Homo sapiens: one gene and its partners. The protein of the gene in region 3 purifies or fractionates together with the protein of the main gene of each other region. This does not show direct contact. Each region holds a gene or a part of one and is shown on either strand. Other genes may lie near its edges.

The links.
Region 1: the proteins of B3GAT3 (region 3) and GOLIM4 purify together in Homo sapiens (affinity purification with mass spectrometry; 4 studies listed by BioGRID and IntAct, with this or other methods). This does not show direct contact.
Region 2: the proteins of B3GAT3 (region 3) and HEATR3 purify together in Homo sapiens (affinity purification with mass spectrometry; 4 studies listed by BioGRID and IntAct, with this or other methods). This does not show direct contact.
Region 4: the proteins of B3GAT3 (region 3) and DNAAF5 purify together in Homo sapiens (affinity purification with mass spectrometry; 3 studies listed by BioGRID and IntAct, with this or other methods). This does not show direct contact.

The regions. Positions count from the first base shown.
Region 1 is NC_000003.12:168,008,925-168,015,948, forward strand, and holds part of GOLIM4 (Golgi integral membrane protein 4), read right to left. Parts: intron 1,900-7,024; coding exon 1,819-1,899; intron 1,495-1,818; coding exon 1,345-1,494; 3' UTR 1-1,344. UniProt on the Homo sapiens protein: Plays a role in endosome to Golgi protein trafficking; mediates protein transport along the late endosome-bypass pathway from the early endosome to the Golgi.
Region 2 is NC_000016.10:50,068,963-50,075,986, reverse strand, and holds part of HEATR3 (HEAT repeat-containing protein 3), read right to left. Parts: intron 5,810-7,024; coding exon 5,697-5,809; intron 3,383-5,696; coding exon 3,273-3,382; intron 417-3,272; coding exon 276-416; intron 1-275. UniProt on the Homo sapiens protein: Plays a role in ribosome biogenesis and in nuclear import of the 60S ribosomal protein L5/large ribosomal subunit protein uL18 (RPL5). Required for proper erythrocyte maturation.
Region 3 is NC_000011.10:62,618,963-62,626,183, forward strand, and holds the start of B3GAT3 (galactosylgalactosylxylosylprotein 3-beta-glucuronosyltransferase 3), read right to left. Parts: upstream 3,025-7,221; 5' UTR 2,986-3,024; coding exon 2,904-2,985; intron 2,858-2,903; exon of another isoform or gene 2,154-2,857; coding exon of another isoform or gene 2,093-2,153; intron 1,710-2,092; coding exon 1,535-1,709; intron 1-1,534. Other genes in the region: GANAB (neutral alpha-glucosidase AB isoform 3 precursor), read right to left, coding at 6,853-6,962, 7,103-7,203. UniProt on the Homo sapiens protein: Glycosaminoglycans biosynthesis. Involved in forming the linkage tetrasaccharide present in heparan sulfate and chondroitin sulfate.
Region 4 is NC_000007.14:778,687-785,710, forward strand, and holds part of DNAAF5 (dynein axonemal assembly factor 5), read left to right. Parts: intron 1-1,266; coding exon 1,267-1,458; intron 1,459-6,830; coding exon 6,831-6,967; 3' UTR 6,968-7,024. UniProt on the Homo sapiens protein: Cytoplasmic protein involved in the delivery of the dynein machinery to the motile cilium.

The DNA of each region.
Region 1 (7,024 bases), on a different chromosome or scaffold from region 3:
CAATCACTCAACTGGAACAATCAAAACCATCTATGAGTGTGGTTATTAAAAAATAAAATTACGTTCATACAATGGTAGAAAATGAAATGTTTTTATTAATTTGATTATTAATACAAAACCACACATATATGAATTATATAACCTAGTGTTATATATTTAAAAATCTTTATGCTTGCAACTGAAATGTCTCTACTCCAAGGGAAGTTTCTGATTTTTAATTTTCTTATTTTAAGGAATCTATTATATTCACAATGATTAAAATGCCTTACACATAGGCAAAAAGCAGACCCAATCCCAGCAAACAGAAAAACCATAAGTCTATCATATCACCATATGTTTCACCATATAGTTTTGAAAAATAATCCTATTTGCAGTTTGGTATGTCTTCATATTTATACTTATTATCAAAGTGATTGCATATTGAGGCACAGAGCTTAAAGAGGAAATATATATTACTTATAGGGAACCAGACACTGAAACAAGAATATCAATCAATGGCTTCAAACAAAAAAAAAAAAAAAAAATTGAGAATGGGTGCTCGCATAGAAACACCACACGCAAACACTCATTAGTTTTTAACCAAGTCACTAGTCCTTCCAAAAGGTGAATATGTTGATGTGTCCATACCTTGTTTGAACACTGCAATACCTGATTAAGACCAGGATACTGCCACATGAGTTTTAATACTCTCTCATTTTTAAATTCAATTCCTCTTAAACAGAACAGCTATGATTTTAAAGCAATGACATTTTTCTAATTGATCTGAAAAGTCTGAAAAACAATGTCTTTACAACAAAAATGGATTTCCAATTGTATGTCACTTTGTACATAGATCTCACTCCAGAGATACATAGACTGGTGAAAATTCTATCAGAGCTATACATAAAGACATCAGAAGGGCAGCAATTAGTAAACAGGCCATTCTCTTTAAAGTCTGCATGGCATTTTGCAGTACTCTCTGTTCTTAAATCCTGTATTTTATCAAAGGCAAACAAAGAACACCTGGGAACTGGAAGCCAGAAAGGTAACACGCTGAAACATATACAAAATCAATGAGCTTTCCAACATCACATAATCTATTAAAAAAATTGGGACGTGGGGGCTCAGGTTTACTTTATTGTTTTTCTTCTTTTTCATGTTTAGCTTGAATATAAAAGAAGCTCTAGACCTACGTTATCAAAATATATTCATATAAATGTATGCGCATTTCTAATACAAAAGTTTTAAAAAAGTCTAAGTTCTTAATTTTTGTAATTAAATATCCTAGAGTTCAGTAGGCAGATTTATGTTTGAGCAGCTTGAAAAGAATCCGTTGGCTGAGCGTTGTCTAGAAATTGGGTGCCGCTACATTTCAGCTCTTCGATGTGATTTCTCAGCAACTGCAGCCCCGTCTTCTTCCTCCTCTTCTTCCTCCTCGTAGTGTTCCTCTCGGCCTTTGGGGCGGTTGTCATCTCGAACTTCTTGCTCTTCTCCATCATTATTTTTATCATCAGTCTTAAAATTAAAAGAAAAAAGAAAAACTAAGAGATAGTATAGAGTTAGTGATAAATAATTCTCTCTAAAAACAGGATGAAAAATTACTCATTTTTGGAGGAAAAAAAAGGAAGAAAAATGATATGTAAGCAACAGTGCTGCTGTCTCTCCTACTTTTCATGTTGTCACAACTTTTCCTAATTTCAGGTGGGCCTGTTAAATTCAGTGGTAACTCAGAGGTACCATTACCCACTGGTACGTATCCCAAATACATATATCTCTCCTATACACATGCACACCCACAAACACTCAAGTGCTCAATAGAAATATGTATCCCGGTCATACATTTTCATCATTTTCACCATAGGTCTCTTCAGCATTATGCTCCAGTTCCCTTTTTTTCTCTTCAGTCAAATCTTCCTGAACCTAAAACAAACCACAGATATCATTTAAACACTTTTGTCTTTCAAGCACTTGCGATAATATATTTTGACACTGTTATCATTTAAAGACTTGCAATAATATATTTTGATTTCCAAAAAGTTCACTCAAAATAGCAGAAGCAAAATTAAAGTAAATATACAATTGAAAAAATATGTCAAGGATTTATCTACTAGGTGTGAAGAAATGTATAAGGGAGGAGCCAAGATGGCCGAATAGGAACAGCTCCGGTCTACAGCTCCCAGTGTGAGCGACGCAGAAGACAGTGATTTCTGCATTTCCATCTGAGGTACCAGGTTCCTCTCACTAGGGAGTGCCAGACAGTGGGTGCAGGTCAGTGGGTGCGCGCACCATGCGCGAGCCAAAGCAGGGCGAGGCATTGTCTCACTTGGGAAGCTCAAAGGGTCGGGGAGTTCCCTTTCCGAGTCAAAGAAAGGGGTGACGGACGGCACCTGGAAAATCGCGTCACTCCCACCCAAATACTGCGCTTTTCCGACGGGATTAAAAAACGGCGCACCACGAGATTATATCCCGCACCTGGCTTGGAGGGTCCTACGCCCACAGAATCTCGCTGATTGCCAGCACAGCAGTCTGAGATCAAACTGCAAGGCGGCAGCAAGGCTGGGGGAGGGGCGCCCGCCATTGCCCAGGCTTGATTAGGTAAACAAAGCAGTGGGGAAGCTCCAACTGGGCGGAGCCCACCACAGCTCAAGGAGGCCTGCCTGCCTCTGTAGGCTCCACCTCTGGGGGCAGGGCACAGACAAACAAAAAGACAGCAGTAACCTCTGCAGACTTAAATGTCCCTGTCTGACAGCTTGGAAGAGAGCAGTGGTTCTCCCAGCACGCAGCTGGAGATCTGAGAACGGGCAGACTGCCTCCTCAAGTGGGTCCCTGACCCCTTACCCCTGAGCAGCCTAACTGGGAGGCACCCCCCAGCAGGAGCACACTGACACCTCACAAGGCAGGGTATTCCAACAGACCTGCAGCTGAGGGTCCTGTCTGTTAGAAGGAAAACTAACAAACAGAAAGGACATCCACACCAAAAACCCATCTGTACATCACCATCATCAAAGACCAAAAGCAGATAAAACCACAAAGATGGGGAAAAAACAGAACAGAAAAATTGGAAACTAAAAAGCAAAGCGCCTCTCCTCCTCCAAAGGAACACAGTTCCTCACCAGCAACAGAACAAAGCTGGATGGAGAATGACATTGACGAGCTGAGAGAAGGCTTCAGACGATCAAATTACTCTGAGCTACGGGAGGACATTCAAACCAAAGGCAAAGAAGTTGAAAACTTTGAAAAAAATTTAGAAGAATGTATAACTAGAATAACCAATACAGAGAAGTGCTTAAAGGAGCTGATGGAGCTGAAAACCAAGGCTCGAGAACTACATGAAGAATGCAGAAGCCTCAGGAGCCGATGCAATCAACTGTAAGAAAGGGTATCAGCGATGGAAGATGAAATGAATGAAATGAAGCGAGAAGAGAAGTTTAGAGAAAAAAGAATAAAAAGAAATGAGCAAAGCCTCCAACAAATATGGGACTATGTGAAAAGACCAAATCTACGTCTGAATGGTGTACCTGAAAGTGATGGGGAGAATGGAACCAAGTTGGAAAACACTCTGCAGGATATTATCCAGGAGAACTTCCCCAATCTAGCAAGGCAGGCCAACGTTCAGATTCAGGAAATACAGAGAACGCCACAAAGATACTCCTCGAGAAGACCAACTCCAAGACACATAATTGTCAGATTCACCAAAGTTGAAATGAAGGAAAAAATGTTAAGGGCAGCCAGAGAGAAAGGTCGGGTTACCCTCAAAGGGAAGCCCATCAGACTAACAGCGGATCTCTCGGCAGAAACTCTACAAGCCAGAAGAGAGTGGGGGCCAATATTCAACATTCTTAAAGACAAAAATTTTCAACCCAGAATTTCATATCCAGCCAAACTAAGCTTCATAAGCGAAGGAGAAATAAAATCCTTTACAGACAAGCAAATGCTGAGAGATTTTGTCACCACCAGGCCTGCCCTACAAGAGCTCCTAAAGGAAGCGCTAAACATGGAAAGGAACAACCGGAACCAGCCACTGCAAAATCATGCCAAATTGTAAAGACCATCAAGACTAGGAAGAAACTGCATCAACTAACGAGCAAAATAACCAGCTAACATCATAATGACAGGATGAAATTCACACATAACAATATTAACTTTAAATGTAAATGGACTAAATGCTCCAATTAAAAGACACAGACTGGCAAATTGGATGAAGAGTCAAGACCCATCAGTGTGCTGTATTCAGGAAACCCATCTCACGTGCAGAGACACACATAGGCTCAAAATAAAAGGATGGAGGAAGATCTACCAAGCAAATGGAAAACAAAAAAAGGCAGGGGTTGCAATCCGAGTCTCTGATAAAACAGACTTTAAACCAACAAAGATCAAAAGAGACAAAGAAGGCCATTACATAATGGTCAAGGGATCAATTCAACAAGAAGAGCTAACTATCCTAAATATATATGCACCCAATACAGGAGCACCAAGATTCATAAAGCAAATCCTGAGTGACCTACAAAGAGACTTAGACTCCCACGCATTAATAATGGGAGACTTTAACACCCCACTGTCAACATTAGACAGATCAACGAGACAGAAAGTCAACAAGGATACCCAGGAATTGAACTCAGCTCTGCACCAAGCGAACCTAATAGACATCTACAGAACTCTCCACCCCAAATCAACAGAATATACATTTTTTTCAGCACCACACCACACCTATTCCAAAATTGACCACATACTGGGAAGTAAAGCTCTCCTCAGCAAATGTAAAAGAACAGAAATTATAACAAACTTCTCTCAGACCACAGTGCAATCAAACTAGAACTCAGGATTAAGAATCTCACTCAAAACCGCTCAACTACATGGAAACTGAACAACCTGCTCCTGAATGACTACTGGGTACATAACGAAATGAAGGCAGAAATAAAGATGTTCTTTCAAACCAACGAGAACAAAGACACAACATACCAGAATCTCTGGGACGCATTCAAAGCAGTGTGTAGAGGGAAATTTATAGCACTGAATGCCCACAAGAGAAAGCAGGAAAGATCCAAAATTGACACCCTAACATCACAATTAAAAGAACTAGAAAAGCAAGAGCAAACACATTCAAAAGCTAGCAGAAGGCAAGAAATAACTAAAATCAGAGCAGAACTGAAGGAAAAAGAGACACAAAAAACCCTTCAAAAAATTAATGAATCCAGGAGCTGGTTTTTTGAAAGGATCAACAAAATTGATAGACCGCTAGCAAGACTAATAAAGAAAAAAAGAGAGAAGAATCTAATAGATGCAATAAAAAATGATAAAGGGGATATCACCACCGATCCCACAGAAATACAAACTACCATCAGAGAATACTACAAACACCTCTACACAAATATACTAGAAAATCTAGAAGAAATGGATAAATTCCTCGACACATACACTCTCCCAAGACTAAACCAGGAAGAAGTTGAATCTCTGAATAGACCAATAACAGGAGCTGAAATTGTGGCAATAATCAATAGCTTACCAACCAAAAAGAGTCCAGGACCAGATGGATTCACAGCCGAATTCTACCAGAGGTACAAGGAGGAACTGGTACCATTCCTTCTGAAACTATTCCAATCAATAGAAAAAGAGGGAATCCTCCCTAACTCATTTTATGAGGCCAGCATCATTCTGATACAAAGCCAGGCAGAGACACAACAAAAAAAAAGAATTTTAGACCAATATCCTTGATGAACATTGATGCAAAAATCCTCAATAAAATACTGGCAAAACGAATACAGCAGCACATCAAAAAGCTTATCCACCATGATCAAGTGGGCTTCATCCCTGGGATGCAAGGCTGGTTCAATATACGCAAATCAATAAATGTAATCCAGCATATAAACAGAGCCAAAGACAAAAACCACATGATTATCTCAATAGATGCAGAAAAAGCCTTTGACAAAATTCAACAACCCTTCATACTAAAAACTCTCAATAAATTAGGTATTGATGGGACGTATTTCAAAATAATAAGAGCTATCTATGACAAACCCACAGCCAATATCATACTGAATGGGCAAAAACTGGAAGCATTCCCTCTGAAAACTGGCACAAGACAGGGATGCCCTCTCTCACCACTCCTATTCAACATAGTGTTGGAAGTTCTGGCCAGGGCAATTAGGCAGGAGAAGGAAATAAAGGCTATTCAATTAGGAAAAGAGGAAGTCAAATTGTCCCTGTTTGCAGACGACATGATTGTATATCTAGAAAACCCCACTGTCTCAGCCCAAAATCTCCTTAAGCTGATAAGCAACTTCAGCAAAGTCTCAGGATACAAAATCAATGTACAAAAATCACAAGCATTCTTACACACCAGCAACAGACAAACAGAGAGCCAAATCATGAGTGAACTCCCATTCACAATTGCTTCAAAGAGAATAAAATACCCAGGAATCCAACTTACAAGGGATGTGAAGGACCTCTTCAAGGAGAACTACAAACCACTGCTCAAGAAAATAAAAGAGGATACAAACAAATGGAAGAACATTCCATGCTCATGGGTAGGAAGAATCAATATCATGAAAATGGCCATACTGCCCAAGGTAATTTATAGATTCAATGCCATCCCCATCAAGCTACCAATGCCTTTCTTCACAGAATTGGAAAAAACTACTTTAAAGTTCATATGGAACCAAAAAAGAGCCCGCATCGCCAAGTCAATCCTAAGCCAAAAGAACAAAGCCGGAGGCATCACACTACCTGACTTCAAACTATACTACAAGGCTACAGTAACCAAAACAGCATGGTACTGGTACCAAAAGAGAGATATAGATCAATGGAACAGAACAGAGCCCTCAGAAATAACGTCGCATATCTACAACTATCTGATCTTTGACAAACCTGAGAAAAACAAGCAATGGGGAAAGGATTCCCTATTTAATAAATGGTGCTGGGAAAACTGGCTAGCCATATGTAGAAAGCTGAAACTGGATCACTTCCTTACACCTTATACAAAAATCAAGTCAAGATGGATTAAAGACTTAAACGTTAGACCTAAAACCATAAAAACCCTGGAAGAAAA
Region 2 (7,024 bases), on a different chromosome or scaffold from region 3:
ATCACTGGTTCATAAATAAGTGGGGATCCTGACAACAGCATCTCTTTATCAGGTTAACAGTAGTTTGTTAAATTCGAAACAAATCTATTCTACAAGGATTTACAACTATAGACAACTGCTTGAAGTAAGGGTCTCTTCTCAGATATTAAAATTTTCAGAACAGATAAAAGCACAGAAGACCTAATGTGTTGAAATGAATGACTAAATTTTGCCCCCACCACATCCATACCAAAAGCTACTGAAACAATATACTATGCCGTAAGGCTAAATTTTACCTGCTACCAATGTCTTCAATAGAAGAGATTCCATGGAACTGACAGGAGAAAGCAGTGCTGATTCCAGCATGTTCAATGCTGTAGCACTGAAAGACTTCAGCAGCTCTGGGTTATCCTCAGTCACTGTCTGCAAACAATATGCTACGAGGCAAAAAATAAGTATTTAGAAACAAATGAATTCTGCTTTGGATAATTTACACCAGTATAACTCATCAATAAAACATTGTATCATTACCACTTCATTAGACACATGTAGGTTTTGCAAAATATATATGCTTTATCTCAGGGTGATATGCGCAAATGAGGCTTCCCAAACTATCAGTGCTGGAAAAGATCATGTTTCTTTTCTTTTTAAATTTCTAATCCTGTACAGATCTATACTTTTTTTTTTTTTTTTTGAGACAGTCTTGCTCTGTCACCCAGGCTGGAATGCAGTGGCGCATCTCAGCTCACTACAACCTCTGCCTCCCAGGTTCAAACGATTCCTGTGCCTCAGTCTCTCAGGTAACTGGAATTAAAGGTATGCGCCATGATGCCTGGCTAATTTCTATATTTTTAGTAGAGACAGGGTTTCACCATGAAAGCCAGGCTGGTCTGGAACTCCTGGTCTCAAGTGATCTGTCCGTTTCGGCCCTTCAAAGTGCTGGGATTACAGGCATGAGCCACCATGCCCAGCCAGATCTACACTTTTTACAAAATACAATTAAAAAGACTCTTTTATTTTTTTTTTGAGATGGAGTCTCGCTCTGTCGCCCAGGCTAGAGTGCAGTGGCACAATCTTGGCTCACTGCAAGCTCCGCCTCCTGGGTTCACACCATTCTCCTGCCTCAGGCTCCCGAGTAGCTGGGACTACAGGCACCCGCCACCATGCTTGGCTAATTTGTTGTATTTTTAGTAGAGATGGGGCTTCACCTTGTCAGCCAGGATGGTCTCGATCTCCTGACCTTGTGATCCGCCCGCCTCAGCCTCCCAAAGTGCTGGGATTACAGGTGTGAGCTACCACGCCCAGCCTAAAAAGACTCTTAAATGCGGCAATGTCGTTACTATAAATGTTTATAAAAGTTTATCCTCAGGCCGGGTGCGGTGGCTCATGCCCGTAATCCCAGCACTTTGGGAGGCTGAGGCAGGAGGATCACTTGAGGTCAGGAGTTGCAGACCAGCCTGGCCAGCATGGCAAAACCCCATCTCTACTGAAAACACAAAAATTAGCTAGGCATGGTGATGCACGCCTGTAATCCCAGCTACTTGGGAGGCTGAGGCAAGAGGATAGCTTGAACCCGGGAGGCGGAGGTTGTAGTAAGTCGAGATTGCGCCACTGCACTCCAGCCTGGGTGACAGAGCTGAGACTCCATCTCAAAAAAAAAAAAAAAATTTTACCCTCAATTTATGTACTTATCAAGGACCAGTAGCAAACAGCCTTAGGTTTTGGGACGTCTGGCTTCCTTTAAATTTATCATGACCTTCAAAGTTAGGGTTATTTCTGGCAGAGCAATAGCTCTTTAAGAAAAAAAGTAGTTTATATAAAAGTATGAGCAAATTAAGAGATGTGTAAAATATTAAATCATGCCCATCAAAATTACTCAAAATGCATGCTACTGCTGTGGTTGATGATACATTTATATGGAAATCCACATATATGCATTTCTGTACATATATCCAAATGTAATATCTTTGTCATTAAGAAACTAATTAAATTTACTTTAGCCAACAGCCATGACTGCTACCATACAGGTTCAAAAAAAGTTATATGAATACATGGGATGGAATCTTATAAGTTCATTTTACTATATGTAAGCATTGCTTGACTTTAGAAGCAAAAGTAATAATGTATTTTAAAAAATCATTAATCTAGCTACATGGAGAAGGAAAACACTATTATACAATGCAAAATGACTATTCTAATCCATTTCAAAAACGCTCATTAAGGGGAAGAAAAACTAAAAACAGAAATAAATCTATAAGACTAAAGGCACAAAAATAGAAGTGATTTTTCTTGTAAAAGATATGAACTAACTTTCCTGAAGTTCTCTTATTGTAACAAAAACTGTCCTCTGAGATTAAGTCACCTATCAATTTCCTAAAAATGGCTGAATCGTTTTTAAAATCCCCATTTACTCACAACTCTCCAGCCCCACCAAGATTCCATTTAGAGAAATGATTTTTAAAATTTTCTCAGTAGTATTTATTCTACTATTTTCCCTCAATTCTGTTCTCTTAAAAATATCCATTAGAGTCAAGAAAAACAGCAGTCAGGGGAATACACTTCTTCCTCCCCAGGAGAAATGCAGTTCCACAAAGGGACAGCTGGATGCCCGCAGTAATGATCGGTAGAAAAGAAATGCTCTCCCTCAATTGTTTCTCCACTCCCACCCAGAATTCTGCTGAGTTGCCTATGCTCTGACTTCTGCCTCCTGCCACTGAGCTGAGGGTCCCCAGTGGTTCCCCAGCCCAATAAAGAGAAGGCGAGGCAGCCAAAGCCACTGAAGTTGCTGGACTTTGCCTTCCCTGTCTCATGGAAGGCATGAAGGCCTAAGTGGAATTTCAATCATTTCTTTTCCTCTTTTTCTCTCAACAAAACTCAGGCCGTCAGTTTTCTGCTGGACGTATGAGATAGTAGCACAATACATTTAAATAAGTTTAGATTCCAATTAACTGGCTTAAAGGCCTGGTAGTTGTGCGTTACTGTTTCTTAGTAAATGGAGATGAAAACTTCAAGAATTAATAAAGGCTGCTAAGAATGGAAACAGGCTAGAAACCACATATCCTCACATAATTACCTTTCTCCCTTTCAGAGTCAAAAGCAGAAAAACTGAATGAGTAGGTAAAGAATTAATATTAATCACAGATTTAAGACCCAGAAAAAACAGGTGCTGAGCTACACATTCACATACAACGAAACAAAAAATCACTCCAGTGGAATAAACACGCCAAAGCTGCATAAAAATTTTTGAATAAGGCTACACATTCTTAATAAGTCATCACCTTTTCTTCACTTACCTACTGAAATAGCCAGGTCAACATTGGTAGGAAACCTACTTAAATACTTTAACACAATCTCCAAACACCCTTCTTTGTTGAATATAGACACTGCTCTACTACTGCATTCACTAAATTGAAGGGGGAAAAAAAAGTTTTACTATTCACATTTTAACAGTAGGAAATCAACCATAGCAATCCATAAAAAAACAAACGAGGCTTTATAAACCAAGGAGTTGGAATCAAACACCCACCATTTTTATCGATGAAGGAACTAACACCCATTCACATTCACTGTACATGAGAACTGGCTATCTATATTTTATTTCTATCACAATGGGACCTTTTCATCAATCTCTTTGCCATGATGCCAGTTTCCTTATAGAAGGTTAGAGCTGGAAGAGATCTTGTAAATCGTTTAATTCAACTCCCCATTTTATAAATGTGAAGACCCAGGCCCCAAGTGGTAAAGTGGCCCATCAAAGAGCACACATTTTGTTAGTGGTAGAGCCAGGCCCAGTACCTAGGTTCCCTGGGTCCAGGCTACTGTTTTTTCTTTCCTCCATACCACAATGATAACAAGTTAAAGGAGGATAAAAGGCCTCTATATTTATCACACAAAAACACAAATTTATTTTTTATTTTTTAACCTACTATATTTTAGAACATTAACAAAAACACACATTTAAAGGAAAATAAAATTATATTTTATTCAAGCCTTTTAGAGTGCAATTATAATTTCATCAAGCAGAATTTGCAGTCTACAATAGAGAAATTACAATAAGTATTTTTTAAATTATACTACCTTTTAATAAAAGACTCAGCTTTCAGTGTTATGAATAAGCAAACACATTAAATACGAGTTAACAAGGCTAATTGTAATAATTGTATCCATGTTTCCAGAGGAAATATCCATGTTGTACATGTTTCCTCCATACATATAACATACACACATGACACGCTAACAGAGCTGACTAAATTATTAAACTAAATCTGTTATGTAATGAAAAATATTTCATATCTTCTATCTACCTACCTACCTACCTATCTAGTTATGGCAGCATGAAGGAGCCCACAGTCTAGTCAGGAAGACAAGGCATATATGTGTAAAGATAATTTGAAATATAAATGATGAAACAAAAATGTTAAAAGTTATAGTAACTCAGTGATACAGACAGGGCTCATAGGTATTCAGAAAAGAGAAATCACCTTGGAGATATATTCAGATTCTTTTCAAGGAAATTTTTTAAAAACTTCCAAATGCAACAATTTCTATGACTTAAAGTTATCTGGTGCACAGAAAAACAGCACCCATCAGTTTTTGCTCAAATGCCATTTCCTCAGATCTGATCTCTCTAATATTTCTGGTGGAATGCATTCATTAAAATGAAATCACAGGCAAGGTCAGATTGCCACGTAGGCATTTCAGGATCCAACTTAATCTTGTATTCTAAGAAACATCTGTGCTTTTAGGTCAGCCACTGTAATTGCTGCTGACTGAAGATAAGAAACTGTGACAGAGTCTTGCTAGAAATGTGGGACATAAAATGGGGCAGAAAAAAGTAAATCCAGGTTGTGTTTCTAGCCATTTCCATTCCTAGCGGCAAGTCCACTCCACCCTCACCACTGCTACAATCACAGAATGGAGAGTGGCCTTCTTCCTCCTGGGGCCAAGGGAGCTCTTCTTAGGCATCTACTTCCCAATCAGACAGTAAGTGCCAGGAAAGAGAAAGAAAAGCACCAGCCAAGGTCTGTGGTCCCCATCTCAGTCTAGAGGCCAAACCAAAGCTGCACCTGCATGTGGGACTGACCAGCTTAAAGACAAATTCTGCTCAGGGTGTACAAGAAGTCGGGGGAAAGGAGGAGCCACAGGTGCTAATGGTCATGATTCCTCCTATCTTTTGTCAGATGCAATGACTGGAGAGGAAAGCCGTAAAACAAAAGATGTAGTGATGCAGTAAGAAAACGGACTGGGAAGGAGGGTTGATCTTAGGTCACTTGATCCTGCCTCTTACCAAGTCTTTTTTTTTTTTGAGACAGGAATTTCGCCCTGTCCCCCAGGCTGGAGTGCAGTGGCACGATCTTGGCTCACTGCAAGCTCTGCCTCCAGGGTTCAAGCGATTCTCCTGCCTCAGCCTCCCGAGTAGCTGGGATTATGGGCATGTACCACCACACTCGGCTAATTTTTTAATATTTTTGGTAGAGACGGGGTTTCACAGTGTTGGCCAGGCTGGTCTCAAACTCCCGACCTCAAGTGATCCACCCGCCTCGGCCTCCCAAAGTGCTGGGATTACAGGCATGAGCCACCATGTCCGGCCCCTACCATGTCTTAACATCCCAGATTAACAGGCCTACCAAGGGGAACAGAGATTCCTACACAGTATAACAGAGAATAGCAGCCTGGGTACTGCTATAGCAGGAGACTGTGTTTGGTAGGCATCTTACCATATATTCCACAGCACGTTCACAGTCTCATTGGCTATGTTCTCAATAGAATTTCTGTTCTGATCTTTTTTCTCCTGCAGAGACATCTCATTTGAATCCAGTCCAGCACTACACTGTAACCAAATATCATGATTAGCACCCTGGTTCCTAAGAAGAATTAAACAAATAGGGTAATGATGGTGATGAAACACAAAGGCTAGACATCAGAAATTACCGTGGTTAACAAGCCAGTCGAATCCTTACAAACAGTAGTACAAAATCAATACAAAGTATTTTACCTAATAAATGTAATAAAAGACAGTAGGAAGGCAACAAAAGATGAAATAAGAGCTTCTACCTAGCACCTTCTGTTTATTACATAGCGCCTTCTAAAGTACTATTCTAAGCATTTTACATGTATCAAGTCATTTAATCCTCACAATAAACCTATGAGGTAGGTGAACTATTATTATCCCCAATCTCCAGCTGCAAATGGGAAAGTGAGGTACAGGGAGGCTGCTGAAGGTGTTAGATTAGCATGTGGTGAAGCTGGGATTCAGGCCCTAGCATTTGACTCCAAAGCTGGTGCTCTTAAGCCCCTCTAGTACAGCCCAGGAGACCCTCTAAAGCAGGGCTTCTCAATCCAGGTACTACTGAAATTCTCCACCAGAAAATTCTTTGTTGGGGAAGGAAGGGCTGTCGTGTGCATTTGGGGATGTTTAGCAGCATCCCTGGCCTCTACCCACTGGATGCCAGTGGCAAACCCCACAAGCTCTGTAACAACCAATGTCTCCAGACATTGCCAGTTATGCCCTGTGAAGCAAGATCATACCCAGTTGAGAATCACTGCTCTAAAATGACTGATGCCTCTCATCAAAACTGGATATCCTTTATGTAGCCTTAAGTGAAAATTACCCATCAGTACAGAATAGAGGACCAGAGGCACTCCAGAGACAGAGCTCCTTAACCTCTTGACTATGTCATGCAATAAGACTGGAATGAGATCAAACATGAGAACTTACTGTAATCTTCACAAGTTCCTAATGTCTGTGCCTCGGCTTTGTCATCTGTAAAATGGGAATAATACCTGCCTCATAGAATACTGTGAGGATTAAATTATATAATATCCAAAACATGAAAATAATACCTGGCACATAAATAAGCAATGACTAAATACTAATTATTTTTATTGTAAGAAGTTTAACATCTAAAGGAGTGAGTCTGTACAATTTTAGGAAAGTCTTTTCCAACTATCATAAAAATAAAGCTACAAAATAATAGAGATTAGTATCAATAATGAGAGCAGATTGGTGTTTCCAGGAAAAGGAATGAAATTTCCATAAGATGTT
Region 3 (7,221 bases):
ACAGAGTGAGACTCCATCTCGGGAAAAAAAAAAAAAAAATTAGCCTGGTGTGGTGGTGCACGCCTGTAATCCCAGCTACTCGGGAGGCTGAGGCAGGAGAATCGCTTGAACCCGGGAGGTGGAGGTTGCAGTGAGCCAAGATCACACCACTGCACTCCAGCCTGGGCAACAGAGCAAGACTCCATCTCGGTGTTGCGGGGAGGCGGGGGGAAGAAAAAAAAAAAAGGAACAAACCAGGAATGTGGAACGTGGGGCTTGGCCTCTTCTGTACTTCTTTATCCTTCAGATCTACCTGCCTGTCCCAGGGCTGGTTGTGTGTGCATGTCGCAGGTGGGGTCTAGAGCTTCCTATGCGTGAATGGGACAGCCATCTGATTCCCAGAAGATGTATTAACACCCTTATGGCTACAGATCCAAAACCACATTCCCCAATTGGTTTTATTAGTAAAACCAATTACATTTGATTTAAAACAAAAGCAAATGTAAATCACTAAATACAGTGCCTGCTAGAGAGTAAACACACTGTAAGTAACAGCTGGTATAACTATTTCTGGACCCTAGTATGACTATCAGGCCAAGCACTTTCAACTTTTTTTTTTTTGAAATGGGCTCTCTCTGTCGCCCAGGCTGCATGATCTCCACTCACTGCAACCTCCGCCGCCCAGGATCAAGCAATCTTCCCACCTCAGCCTCCAGAGTAGCTGAGATTACAGGCATGCACCATCACGCCTAGCTAACTTTTTTTTTTTTTTTTTTTTTTTTTCAGAGACAAGAGTTTCACCATGTTGCCCAGGCTGGTCTCAAACTCCTGAGCTCAGGCGATCCGCCAGCCTCGGGCTCCCAAAGTGCTGGGATTACAGGCGTGAGCCACTGCGCCCAGACAAGCCCTTTCAACTTTAATCAGGGGGTTTTAACTTTCTTGCCAAACGGTCCCTAAGGAGAGAGAGTTAATTCACTGCCAAGCTCAAAATTTCTTTGAAATGTTATTGTTCTATCTTATAATTTGGTAGAAATTTTGTATTTTCCTTCTAGAAAAAGAACTATTTTTTTTCTTTTTTCTTTTGTTTTGTTTTGTTTTTGAGATGGAGTTTCACTCTTGTTGCCCAGGCTGGAGTGCAATAGCGCACTCTCAGCTCACTGCAACCTCCGCCTCTCAGGTTCAAGGGATTCTCCTGCCTCAGCCTCCCCAGTAGCTGGGATTATAGGCATGCGCCACCACGCCTGGCTAATTTTGTATTTTTAGTAGAGACGGGGTTTTGCCATGTTGGCCAGGCTGGTCTCGAACTCCTGACCTCAGGTGATCCACCCGCCTCGGCCTCCCAAAGTGCTGGGATTACAGGCGTGAGCCACCACACCCAGCCTGAAAAAGAACTATTTTCCCACAAATATTTGAGTATAAATGTGGTTCATTTATCCTGTCTTTGGCATGCTCTAGTTTGAGGAACAACTCCTAGCCCAGTGCCTCCCCAAACTCCTCATCATCAACTCCAACTTCTTGGACAACGCAGACCTCTTGAGTGCACCAGAGCCCATACCTGGCATAGGTGGGGGTAACAACATAGATAGTAGGCAGGGCCTCGGGTTCAGGGGGCTGGGCAGGGGCAGGGGGTGGCCGTCGGAGTTCCGCTTGCAGCTGGGAAATCCTCAGATCCTTCTGCCGTAGCTGCTCGGCTGCTGCCCGCAGGGGAGGAAGGCAGTCACATGGCTGGCCTGGTCCCAGGAAGCATTAATGGGGAAAGAAGGTGGGGACAGAGAACCGCAGAATGTTCAGCATCCCAAAGGGCCGTAATCGTCTCATTAATTCCTAACCAATGCAGGTATCACCTTATGACTTCCCTAGTAGCCTTTTCTATACCTCTCGTGTGGGAAACTCACTGCCTCAAGCAGCAGACCCTCTCCAACTTTAATAAATTCCATTGTTACAATTTTATGTTGGATATTGAGCTGATTCCATCTTTTCTACCTGCTGGTCCTAATTTTGCCTTCTGGGCTTCTAACAAGCTCATGTCCTTAAACAGGACAGTCTTTTCAGAGTCCAAGGTGCCAACTAACCATTACACTATGGAACCCCTTTTGGACAGTCTTTCAAATACCTGAGGATAACGCAGTGGCACTGTCCCTAAATCTTTGCATAAGGGGCAGGGTTCGATCCATTCCCTTGGCTAGGTGACCAAAGACTCATTGTTAAATTCATTGATTCCATCGTAGGATAAATATTTATTGAATACTCTTCCTAGGAGGCACTGCCTTAGGTGCTGGGGATACAGCAGGGAACAAAACAGACACAGTCCCTGCCCTCATCGAGCTTTCTGTTTAGTGGAGGAAGCAGACACTAAGCAAAGAAACAAATTAATAACATTATTACAAACTGTGATGGGGCCATGAAGAAAATAATCAGGATAGAGAATAAAAGGGAATGGAATTAAGAATGGTAACTTTAGCTATGGTGGTCAGGGAAGGCCTCTCTGAGGAGGTGACATTTGAGCTAAGACCTGAAGGATGAGAAAGAGGCAGCCCGGGAAACGCTGGAAGCAAAGCACCCCAAGCAGAGGGAACAAGTTAAGTGCTTGAGAGAGTAATGAGCGTGGGGTTTTCGAGAAACTGTCAGCAAGCCAGTCTGGCTGCAGCAGAGCGAGGGAGAGGGGTGGAAATGGGGTTGGGAGAGGCGGACGGCAGCAGGATCATGCGGGGCCTTGCAGGCTCTGGGAAGGAGTCTGGATTTCATCCGAGGTGCGGCGGGTAGCCGCGGTGCGTTCTATAGAGGGCAGTGCGCCTGAGGCCGCAGAGCTGTCCGGAGGGCCGAGCGGATGAATGGTGTTTGCCGGGGGTTCATCCCCAGGGCGGGATGCACGGCGGCGGGCGCCCTCGGGCCAGCCCGCCGCACCCCCGCCCCGCCCCGCTCACCGAGCTGTACCAGCGCGTAGAGGAGGCCGGCGATCGACACCAGGAAGTAGGCGAGAAACACGTTCTTCAGCTTCAGCTTCATGGCCGCGCCGCCGCCCGCGCCCGAGCAGGCGGGGTCTGCAGGGGACGAGGGGTTCCCGCCCCAAACCCCGGCTCCTGTCCGCAGGCCCCGCCCCTGCAGCGGCTCCGCCCTGCGTCCCGCCTTCCTCGCACTCCCCTACCAGCTCCCAGCTGGGGCTGGCAGCGCCGCCAGGGCACGCTTCCGGTCATCTGTGCACCCCCCCGCCTTGTAGACTTGATTTCCGGTCCCACCGCCAGGTTCCGGGAACCACCGGGTGGTGACGTCACATCCGGCGTGCCAAACTCGCGTGGCCGGCAGTCAAAACCCCGGGTAGGTGCAGAATCTCGAGTAGGTGCACGTGGTACCTACCTCGAGACCCGCCCCCTCATCACGGAATTGCCTGAGAAAGCCAGTCCTGGCGCCCAGATCTTCACCTTATTCATCCATCCAGTCAGTCACGCCACCCAATAGCTGTTGCTCAATACTTATTACACGAATGAAATCTAAGGCCCACCACATGATCCTCTGGGTGTCTCTCCTGGAATCCTCACTATAATACTTTGAGATAGATAAGAAACCAAAGTTGACAAAAATTATGTCATTGCCACAGGGCAGTTTTGTGTCCTTTCTGGACACCCGATTCCAGCATCTCTAGTGTGTCCTCTGGCCCACATTTCTTCAACAGATGACAACAGGGGTGCCAAGGAAGTGTTTTAACTACCAGGAAATTGATTGGAAATAGTTCCTGAGCTGGGGAATTCCATGAATGCATCCCCTTCCTCCTCACAAGCACAAGCCATCCTTCTCATTTTTCCTTTAAAAAAAAAAAAAAGGGCCCGGCCCAGTGGCTCATGCCTGTAATCCTGGCACTTTAGAAGCCCAGGAGTTTCAGATCAGCCTGGGCAACAAGGCAAAACCCCGTCTCTACAAAAAAAACACAAAAATTAGCTGGGTGTGATGGCGCGGGCCTACAGTCCCAGCTACTTGGGAGGCTGACATGGGAGGCTGAGGCTGTGGTGAGCCGTGATCATGCCACTGCACTCCAGCTTGGGTGACTGGGTGAGACCGTCTCAAAAAAAAAATAACCCCCCAAAAAAAGTTTCTGGTAAAATAATCTCTGACTTGTGGTCAGTCTACAAAATGAGGGGAAGGGGGAACAGTATACTTCCTGTCACTAAAACAATGGGAAACTTTAAAAAGTGCTGTTAGCAGCTGGGCGCGGTGGCTCACGCCTGTAATCCCAGCACTTTGGGAGGCCGAGACAGGCGGATCACGAGGTCAGGAGATCGAGACCATCCTGGCTAACACGGTGAAACCCCGTCTCTACTAAAAAACACAAAAAAATTAGCAGGGTGTAGTGGCGGGCGCCTGCAGTCCCAGCTACTCAGGAGGCTGAGGCAGGAGAATGGCGTGAACCCGGGAAGCAGAGCTTGCCAAGAGCCGAGATCGCACCACTGCACTCCAGCCTGGGCGACTGAGGGAGACTCCGTCTCAAAAACAAAAACAAAAACAAAAGTGCTGTTAGCTACAAGCAGAAGCCTCTAGGTTGGGCACAGTGATCGATGCCTGTAATCCCAGAACTTTAGAAGCCTGGGAGGTCAAGGCTGCAATGAGCCAGGATCATACCACAGCACTCCCCGCACTCCAGCCTGAGCAATAGAGCGAAACTATGTCTCCTCAACCCCCGACATCCTCCAAAAGTTTAGTTTGAGAAACAGCTATCTGACCTTATGGCTATTTCTATCCAAGAGGGACTCCATTGGCTCTGATCACCACTTACTAACTAGGCCTACTAAAATGTGATGATCTTGCTGGGCTCTTCTACGAAAATATCTAGCAACCCAAGGAAGGCTTGCACTTGCTCATTTTGCTGAAATCAAGGATGCTCATGCTGGCCGGGAACAGTGGCTCATCCCTGTAATCCCAGCACTTTGGAAGGCCGAGGCAGGTGGATCACTTGAGGCCAGGAGTTCGAGACAACATGGTGAAACCCCATCTCTACTAAAGATACAAAAATCAGCCAGACGTGGTAGCAGGTGCCTGTAGTCCTAGCTACTTGGGGGCTGAGGCAAGAGAATCGCTTGAACCTGGGAGGCAGAGGTTGTAGTGAGCCGAGATCACACCATTGCACTCCAGCCTGGGCAACAGTGAGACTCCATCTCAAAAAAAAAAAAAAAAAACCCAAAAAGGATGCTTATGCTGAAGCCAAATGAAAATGTAAGGCCCATGGCCAGGCATGGTGCCTCACGCCTGTAATCCCAGCACTTTGGGAGGCCAAGGCGGGCAGATCACCTGAGGTCAGGAGTTCAAGATCAGCATGGCTAACATGGCGAAACCCCATCTCTACTAAAAATACAAAAATGAAGCTGGCCATGGTCGCAGGTGCCCGTAATCCCAGCTATTAAGGAGGCTGAGGTGGGAGAACTGCCTGAACCCAGGAGGCAGAGGTTGCAACGAGCCAGGATCACACACTGTACTCCAGCCTGGCGACACTCTGTCTCAAAAAAAAAAAAAAAAAAAAAAAGACCCAGGGCGCAGTGGCTCACTCCTTTAATTCCAGCACTTTGGGAGGCCGAGGCAGGCGGATCACCTGAGGTCAGGAGTTCCAGACCAGCCTGGCCAACATGGTGAAACCCCATCTCTAATAAAAATACAAAAATTAGCTGGGCATGGTGGCGCATGCCTGTAGTCCCAGCGACTCGGGAGGTTGAGGCACGAGAACTGCTTGAACCTGGGAGGCAGAGGTTGCAATGAGCCCAGATCATGCCATTGCATTCCAGCCTGGGCAACAGAGTGAGACTCAGTCTCAAAAAAGAAAAAAAAAGGAAAGCAAATGTAAGGTCTCTAGGCTTCTAGGGTCTGTGGCTCAGGCTAGAACTAGAATCCAGACTACCACCAGTTATTTATGGTTTATCCCTTTATTGTTTCTCCTTTGATCAAAACGTGTCACAGCTGGGAACCAAGAGGAAGTAAAAAAAATACCCACAAATATTCCCCGACTCCCCATTAGTCCTCCCCCAACCCCCCACCCAGGGCTTCCAGCCAACCCCGAGCACACATGATCATCTCCCCCCACCCTCAGGCTTCTCCTAGCAATAAATACAGGTGACCATGATTCACTGAAACCACAACTGATTTCTCCATCTTAAGTGCCCCTCAAAGGGGACAAGAAGGGGGCAAAAGAAGTTTAATGCGCATCCCCTAAGAGGTGTGGAAACGTCTTTCTGCCGAGGGACAGAGGAGGTAGAACTGCCCCTCTAAGAATTGCAGCAGCTCTACAAGGAATCGGGGAGAGGAAAAGGGTAGAATGAGAGGGAAAAGGATGTTCTTTAGCAACCTCACTCCTTTGATCCATTCATCCTGTCCGGGGTAAGGGGTGGTCCCAGTGTATCGGTGGGGCATAAAAAGGGGAGTAAAGCCTGGAGGAAGAAATGAAAGGTGGGAGAGCAATCTGGTGGGAGGGAAGGGGAAAAGGAGCCCTAACTCATTGCCCTCATCTTCTTCCAAGAAGTGGCATCAACATACAAGAGGCATGAATGGATAGACTCTGGGGGAGTTCAGGGCTCCTAAATAAGGGAAAGAGAAGGGGCGACAAGGGCCCTGTGGTTTCCTGGTGTTCGTAAGTGAATGTGCTCCAGTTAGAGCAACAGGATGTTGGGGGAATGAAGGGAAAGAGTTGGTATCAATGGAGTGGGAGAGGTGAGGAGATCACAAGAGGAATTTGGAGCCCAGGGTCAGCCCTCTCATCCTGCCCAAATGTTGGCAGAATCTGGGTCTTAGACTAGCATAAGTGAAGTCTGGGGAGGGCCGAACTCCAAGGCAGAAGAAAGAATATCTCTCAGCACTAATGCTCCCCTTCCCTCCCCCTAACCCAGAACATCCCTTGGGTTATCGCAGGTGAATACTCCAATCAGATGCCACATTGATGCCAGGCTTGCGCAGGACCAACACAGAGGTCTCAGGGTCATGCTGGAAGGACAGGCGGCTTTCTGGAGATCCTGGAGGAGGAATAAAAGAGTGCCATAGTCATACCAATGGGCTATAGCATAACAACAACGTTCCTACAGGCAAGGGCATCCCTAAACCTGCCCCGGCTTCCCCTCCTTCCCCCATCCTAGGGGCCAGATTGGTCACTCACCTTTTGTCTGGAGTACCACAGCTGCTGGCTTTCCAGCCCCTATTATCACCACCCGCTCAATCCAGATTGGTGTCTCAAAGTGTCCTTCAGGGTCTGCTGAGCTGGAGATGGTAAAAGCA
Region 4 (7,024 bases), on a different chromosome or scaffold from region 3:
TGAGTTGAGCATCTGACTCCGTCCTTCCTCCTGAGACACGTGCAGCGAGGGCACCCACTGTGCAGCGAGGGCTCCCGCCGTGCAGTGAGCATACCCCCTGTGCAGTGAGGGCACCTGCCGTGCAGTGAGCATACCCCCCATGCAGCAAAAGCACCCCCCATGCAGCGAGGGCTCCCGCTGTGCAGTGAGCATACCCGCTGTGCAGTGAGGGCACCTGCCGTGCAGGGCTGCTTCAGGGTTTGGCACCATAATGCCTGGATGTGCTCCGTGGCTTCCTCCTTGGTGCCTGTGTTTGGTGGCTGGAAGGCCCAGCACCCTCAGGGCCCAGAACCCTCAGGGAAGTGCCTGGGCATCTGCCAGGAATTAACCCACTGGGTCCCACTTGTCTCAAAGCCTGGCTTGGTAGGATGGCCTGAACTTTGGATGTTTTTCATGCCTTTCGTTACATAGGATCCTCTTGCTGAGGGTGGATCATGCCCTCCACATTGCAAAAGCATCAGAGACCCAGCCCACCCTCGCGTCTGCAGCGGGAAGATGGGCCTGGTGCCAGGCGCGGGCAGCCGCCCCTCCCAGCGTCGGGAAGATGGGCCTCATGCCAGGCATGGGCAGCTGCCCCTCCCAGCGTCGGGAAGATGGGCCTCCGGGTGGTTTTGCGACTCAGTCATCTGCGAATTTCCGGATGCTGCACAGAAGGGGGTGCCAAAGTTTTTTTAAGATGATGTAAAAAAAGCATAAATTTGATAAAAATTATGTCCATTAACCTCATAAGTTTCTACCCATCGGGAAGGATCATCCTTCTGTTTTCAGCAGCAGAAAACTGACCACAGTAGGGGGTTGTCTGTCACTGAGTCCTCAGCTCTGGTGGGAGGGCAGGGTCAGAGCTGGGCAGGGTGGCCAGCTCGGGGATCTGAGCATCTGGGAGCAGGAGGTGGAGGGCCAGGTGAGCACACAGCTGCGAGGAGGTGGAGGACCAGGTGAGCACACAGCTACAGCTACAGGGAGGCTCTGCGCCTGCAGGACAGGTTATTACAGGGGCCGCAGCAGGGCCTGGGCCGCCTCCACTCTGTTGGCTGGGGTTCAGGGGTCCCAGGTCGCCAGGAGCACCTTGCATGTGGCTCGGGATGCACGGAGTCTCCCGTGAGGTGTGGGTTTCTTAGGACCCCAGGGCAGGTGTCCCATGGGAGTATGAACTAAATGCCTTTGTGGACGTTTAGACGTGAAATGTCTGCTCTAGACTCACACACCTGTCTCGCTCCCTCCTTCCAGAACTCTTAAAACGCCTAGATGACGTGTCCAACGATGTGAGGATGGCAGCCGCCTCCACCTTGGTCACCTGGCTGCAGTGTGTCAAGGGTGCCAACGCAAAATCCTACTATCAGAGCAGTGTCCAGTACCTGTACCGAGAGTTGCTGGTTCACCTTGACGATCCAGAGAGGGCCATCCAGGATGCAATTTTAGGTGAGACTCCGACGGCTTGGCCTTCGTTCCGATGCCTGCTTTCGGCGCCTGCCACGGGCATCTGTAGCTGAGCCGTGTGACCGGCCACAGGGCCCTGGGGCACAGGAGGGGCCTCAGCTCCGGCCTGGCACACTCTTGAGTTCTTGGCAAACCCTGAGAGCGGCTGTCTTTGTGGTGATAGCTGCTGACATTTCCTCTAACAGAAATCAAAACTGAGAGTATTCTAGAATACTTGTTAGTTGTTTAAAATAACAATAGTAAGCCCAGTATATATTGACACAGATGGCTTGTGTTTTTGAAAAATACTTTCCAAAACAAAATCATCTGCAAGAACGATTTTTGCAAATGTCTTAAATGTGTAGCTTGATGGAAGACACTGGACTTTCACATCTTCCATACAGTCAGTCATGATGTGTATGGCTCTGGCTGAAATACGTGGAAAATAATCTGGCCTCGCCTGTGGCTTCAAGTGTAGTTGGACAAAAGAAGAGTATTTTAGTAGCCTTTTCAGATAGGCGTGGGACTTCTTCAATACCACGCCAACAGCGACACAGGCCGTCCCTTGAAGGTCACTCACAGCACAGGGCCTGAGGCCACACACCACAGAGCCTTCCACGCTCAGTGCATTAAAATCCGCTGGTCCATCTCACACTTGGAATGTAACGATTTGCTTTTTTTTTTCTTTTTTTTTTTTTTGTTTTGTTTTGTTGTTGGTGAATATAATGACGTTGTTCTTTTTTTTAATAAAATTTGTATTTTTAATTTTTGTGGGTACACATAGGTGTATATAAGGCATGTGTGATACTGTGATACAGGCATGCAGTGTGTGTAAATCACATTGGGGAAATGGGGTCCCCGTCACTTCAAACACTTACACTTTCTTTGTGTTACAAATAATTCAGTGATACTTTTCGTTATGTTTAAATGTGTGATAAATTATTGTTGACCATAGTCACCCTGTTGTGCTATCAAATACTAAATCTTACTCATTCTGTTTTTGTACTCATTAACCATCCCCACCTCTTCCCCCGGCCCCATTCCTCTTCCGAGCCTCTGGGAGCCATCCTTCTGCTCTATCTCCATGAGTTGAATTATTTTTATTTTTAGTTCCCACAAATGAGAATGTGCGGAATTTGCCCTTCTGTGCCTGACTTATTTCACTTAACATAGCGACCTCCACTTCCCTCCATGTTGATCCAATGACTGGATCTCATTTCTTTTGTGGCCGGATAATATTCCACTGCGTGCGCTCCACGTTTTCCTTCTCCCTTCATCTGTCCGTGGACACCCCGGTTGCTTCCACACCTTGGCTGTCGGAACAGTGGGGCATTCGGCGTGCGCGTGCAGCTCTCCCCCATAGCTGAATTCCTCTCTTTTGGGTATTTGCCCAGAAGTGGGATTGCCGGGCTGTATGGGGCTCTATTTTTAGTTTTGGAGGGACCTCCAGACTGTTCTCCCAGCGGTGCTCATTTACATTCCCACCAGCAGCGTGAGGGTTCCCTTGTCTCCACATCCGCGCCGGGACTTGTTTCCGCAGCCATTTTAACTGGGGTCAGAGGATGTCTCACTTGTTTCTATGTGCATTTCTCTGAGGAGCGGTGGTGGTGGGCACCTTTTCAGACGCCTGTTTGTCATTTCCATGCTGTCTTTTGAGAGCTGTCTGTTCAGGTCTTTTACCCATTTTTAATTGGATTATTAGATTGTCTGCTATTGAGCCTGAGCTCCTCATATATTCCAGTGATTAATCCTTGTCAGGCGGCGGTTCTAAGATACAGTCTCCCATCCCGTACCCGCGGGCTGTCCCTGCGGCTGTACTCTGCTCATTCTTCCCTTTGCTGTGTGGAAGCTTTGGGCCTGGATGTGCTGACTTTGCCTTTTGCCTCCTTTGGAAAATACTTAGACCTTCCCCGCGCAGCTGCGTCCGGTTTCCCGGCGTGGCTACATCCGGTTATGCGATGTCGGATCTTCCTGGTGTGGCCGCCTCCCGTCGCGCAGCGTCAGAAACTCGGATCTTCGCGGCGTGGCCGCCTCCCGACACGCGGCGTCAGAAACTCGGATCTTCCTGGCGTGGCCGCCTCCCGTCGCGCGGCGTCAGAAACTCGGATCTTCGCGGCGTGGCCACCTCCCGACACGCGGCATCAGAAACTCGGATCTTCCTGGCGTGGCCGCCTCCCGTCACGCGGCGTCAGAAACTCGGCTCTTCGCGGCGTGGCCGCCTCCCGTCACGCGGCGTCAGAAACTCGCATCTTCCCGGCGTGGCCGCCTCCCCTCACGCGGCGTCAGAAACTCGCATCTTCCTGGTGTGGCCGCCTCCCGTCACGCGGCGTCAGAAACTCGGATCTTCCCGGCGTGGCCGCGTCCCGTCACGCGGCGTCAGAAACTCGCATCTTCCTGGTGTGGCCGCCTCCCGTCACGCGGCGTCAGAAACTCGGATCTTCCCGGCGTGGCCGCGTCCCGTTACGCAGCGTCAGAAACTCGATATTCCTGGCGTGGCCGCCTCCCGTCACGCAGCGTCAGAAACTCGATCTTCCTGGCGTGGCCGCCTCCCGTCACGCAGCGTCAGAAACTCGATCTTCCTGGCGTGGCCGCCTCCCGTCACGCAGCGTCAGAAACTCGATCTTCCTGGCGTGGCCGCCTCCCGTCACGCAGCGTCAGAAACTCGGTCTTCCTGCCATGGCCACCTCCCATCCGGCGGCATCAGAAACTCGGACCTTCCTGGCGTGGCCGCGTCCCCTCACACAACGTCAGAAACTCGATCTTCCTGGCGTGGCCACCTCCCCTCCGGCGGCATCAGAAACTCGGATCGTCCTGGGGTGGCTGCTCTTGTTACGCAACGTCAGAAACTCTCCTGCGTGGGCACCAGGCTCAGAAGAGTCCGGCTTGTGGTGGCAGGGCCAAGCTTTGGCTCATTGTGATTTTTTGTGTGAGAGCTTGACTTGTATCCTCGGCCACAAACCCTGTCGGTTGTTCTGGGAGTGAGGGACTTGGGCCGTTCACTTTCACGCCGTGCTCTGCCAGATCCCGCGTCCGCACAGCCAGGGTGGGTGCACTGCTCGTCCGTCCGCCATTCTTCCTGGGAAAAGCAGCTCTGCTGCACGACCCTGGTCCTCCGTGTGAAGCGGTGCACCTGGTGCCCACTCGCGGGTGTAAGCCGTGTGCGTGAGGGTGAGTGTGGCAGGTGAAGCCGTGTGCTCGAGGGTGAGTGTGGCAGGGGGCGTGGGCCTCAGCTGCTCCCGCATCTGCGCAGGTGTGAGCACAGTGACGGGCAGGCCGGGCATGCTCTGCGTGCGACCACATGCCTGGCTTTGACTCACAGACCCTCTGAAGGGTCCTGGGGACCCCGAGGGCCTTGGAGCCCATGTCGGGAGCCCCTGCCTTGAGTCGTGGAATCAGGTTGTCAGCCAGTGAGGGAGCCCCAGAGCCCATTGATCCACGGCGGGGCCCGTGGTCTCTCCAGGTCACGGAAAGAAGCTGCGAATTGGAGACCAATTGGAAATTGTTTAAAAGGAGGACAGCAGCTCACGTGCAGGCCTCGCTGGGACAGCCCATCCTGCCAGATCCACGCAACGCCCCCAGCTCCCCACACTCCCTGGCAAATCCCAGCCCTGCCTGCGCCCTCCCAGCTCTCCTGTCCTGCACTACACACCATCAACCCGAGTTCTGAGCTTCTCCTACTCTCAGCCTCAGCCTCACTCGTCCTCAGGACCTTGCTCTAGGCCGAGGAGACCAGTGCCCCTGTGCACCAGCTCAGCCTGCAGCCCCGGCCCTCTCGCCTCCCCAGGACTGCACAGGGCATCTCCCTTCCCCACTGCACGGTACAGGCCATTCTTTCTCCTGTCTTTAAAAAAACAAAACACAGATGCCCTGTACGCCGCCCCCACCTCCCCCACCTCCCCCACCGCACATCCGCCTGGCAGCAGGCTCCCTGGAAGCAGCCCGCCTTACCCCTCCTCGAGGCCCTGGGCCCATGGCAGGCATCTGCAGCCGTCCACCTGCCTGCACCTCTGAGCAGCGCCAGGCACAGCTGGCGGCCACGCACCCTCCTCTGGCTGCGGGACGCCCGTGCTCAGTCTCTTGGTCTTTCCCTCGCCCATGTGGGCCCCTCACTGCTCCTCTGCTGTGTCTGCACCGCTCCCTCAGAGCTCTTCTCCTGGCCTCAGCTCCACACACAAGTGCAGCTGCCTGGTGCCGAACCCTGGGCCGCTACCCCCCTCCCTGACTGCCTGCCGGGTTCCGCCACCCTCAGTGGCTCAGTGGCCATCTGTCCTCAAGACTGAAGGCGGAGACCTTGAGGTCCTCCTGGACCCCCTCTTAACTCCCAGCAGAATCTGATAGACTCCCCAGCCACTGCAGCAACCTCCCCATCCTCTTCCTGCCTCAGCTAGACACGCCCAACCCTTTCTGGCCCCCACCCCTGCAGCTCCCACTGCCCCCATCACACACACCACCACGAGCCCCTGACACGTTTGCCTTCCTGATTTTCATCATCGGCCACTGCTTCCCGATGAACCCTCCGTAAGCATGGGTTCATTTCCGGCTGTGTCGGTGATGCCTGGCCCGTGGGAGGTTTGCAGTCACTGCGGCAGGTGAATTGGCATCCGCAAATTGGATAAGAAAGTCGCCTGTTTTTCTGAGCCTATTTGCTCCTGTGAAACCTGTTTCTAAGCCCAAAAATGCCACCTGAAGACTCTGCAGGACATCATTTCATGGTCTGCCCACAACTGCCAGGAGGCGATTTTCAGTTCTTTGAATGCACGTTGTGACTGCCGTGCACCCACCCAGCAGCATCAGGTTCCTCATATTCACATAGTGACCATGCAGCATCAGGTCACTTGTCCACGTTGTGACTCAGGTCATTCGTATCCACATTCTGACTGCCGTCCACCCGTCCAGAGTGTCAGCTTACTTATATCCACGTTATGACTACTGTGCACCCATCCGCTGCATCAGGTCGCTCGTGTCCACACTGGGACTGCCGTGCACGTGGCCAGCAGCATCAGGTCACTTGTATCCACATTATGATCGCTGGACACCCATCCAGCAGGATCAGGTCATTCGTATCCACATTGTGACTACTGGGTCCCCATCCAGCAGCGTCAGGTCATTCGTCCCCAGATTGTGAGTCGGGTCACTCGTATCCACATTGTGACTACTGTGTCCCCATCCAGCAGCGTCAGGTCATTCGTCCCCACATTGTGAGTCGGATCACTCGTATCCGCATTGTGACTACTGTATGTCCACCCAGCAGCGTCAGGTTATTTGCAGATGCTTTTACAGATGCTTGAACTTCACTACAAAGCCAATTTGCACGAGAGGTAAGATTGGTTTCATGTTTGTTTCTGGCATGTTCAAGGTGTTTTTCTGTTTTACAGAGGTCCTCAAAGAGGGCAGCGGGCTGTTCCCAGATCTCCTGGTGAGGGAGACGGAGGCCGTCATCCACAAGCACCGCTCGGCCACCTACTGCGAGCAGCTCCTGCAGCATGTGCAGGCCGTGCCAGCCACACAGTGACCACGCTGGTTTCAGCCACGGCACACCCTTGTCCCCACCTGAGCCAGAGTTTGTGGC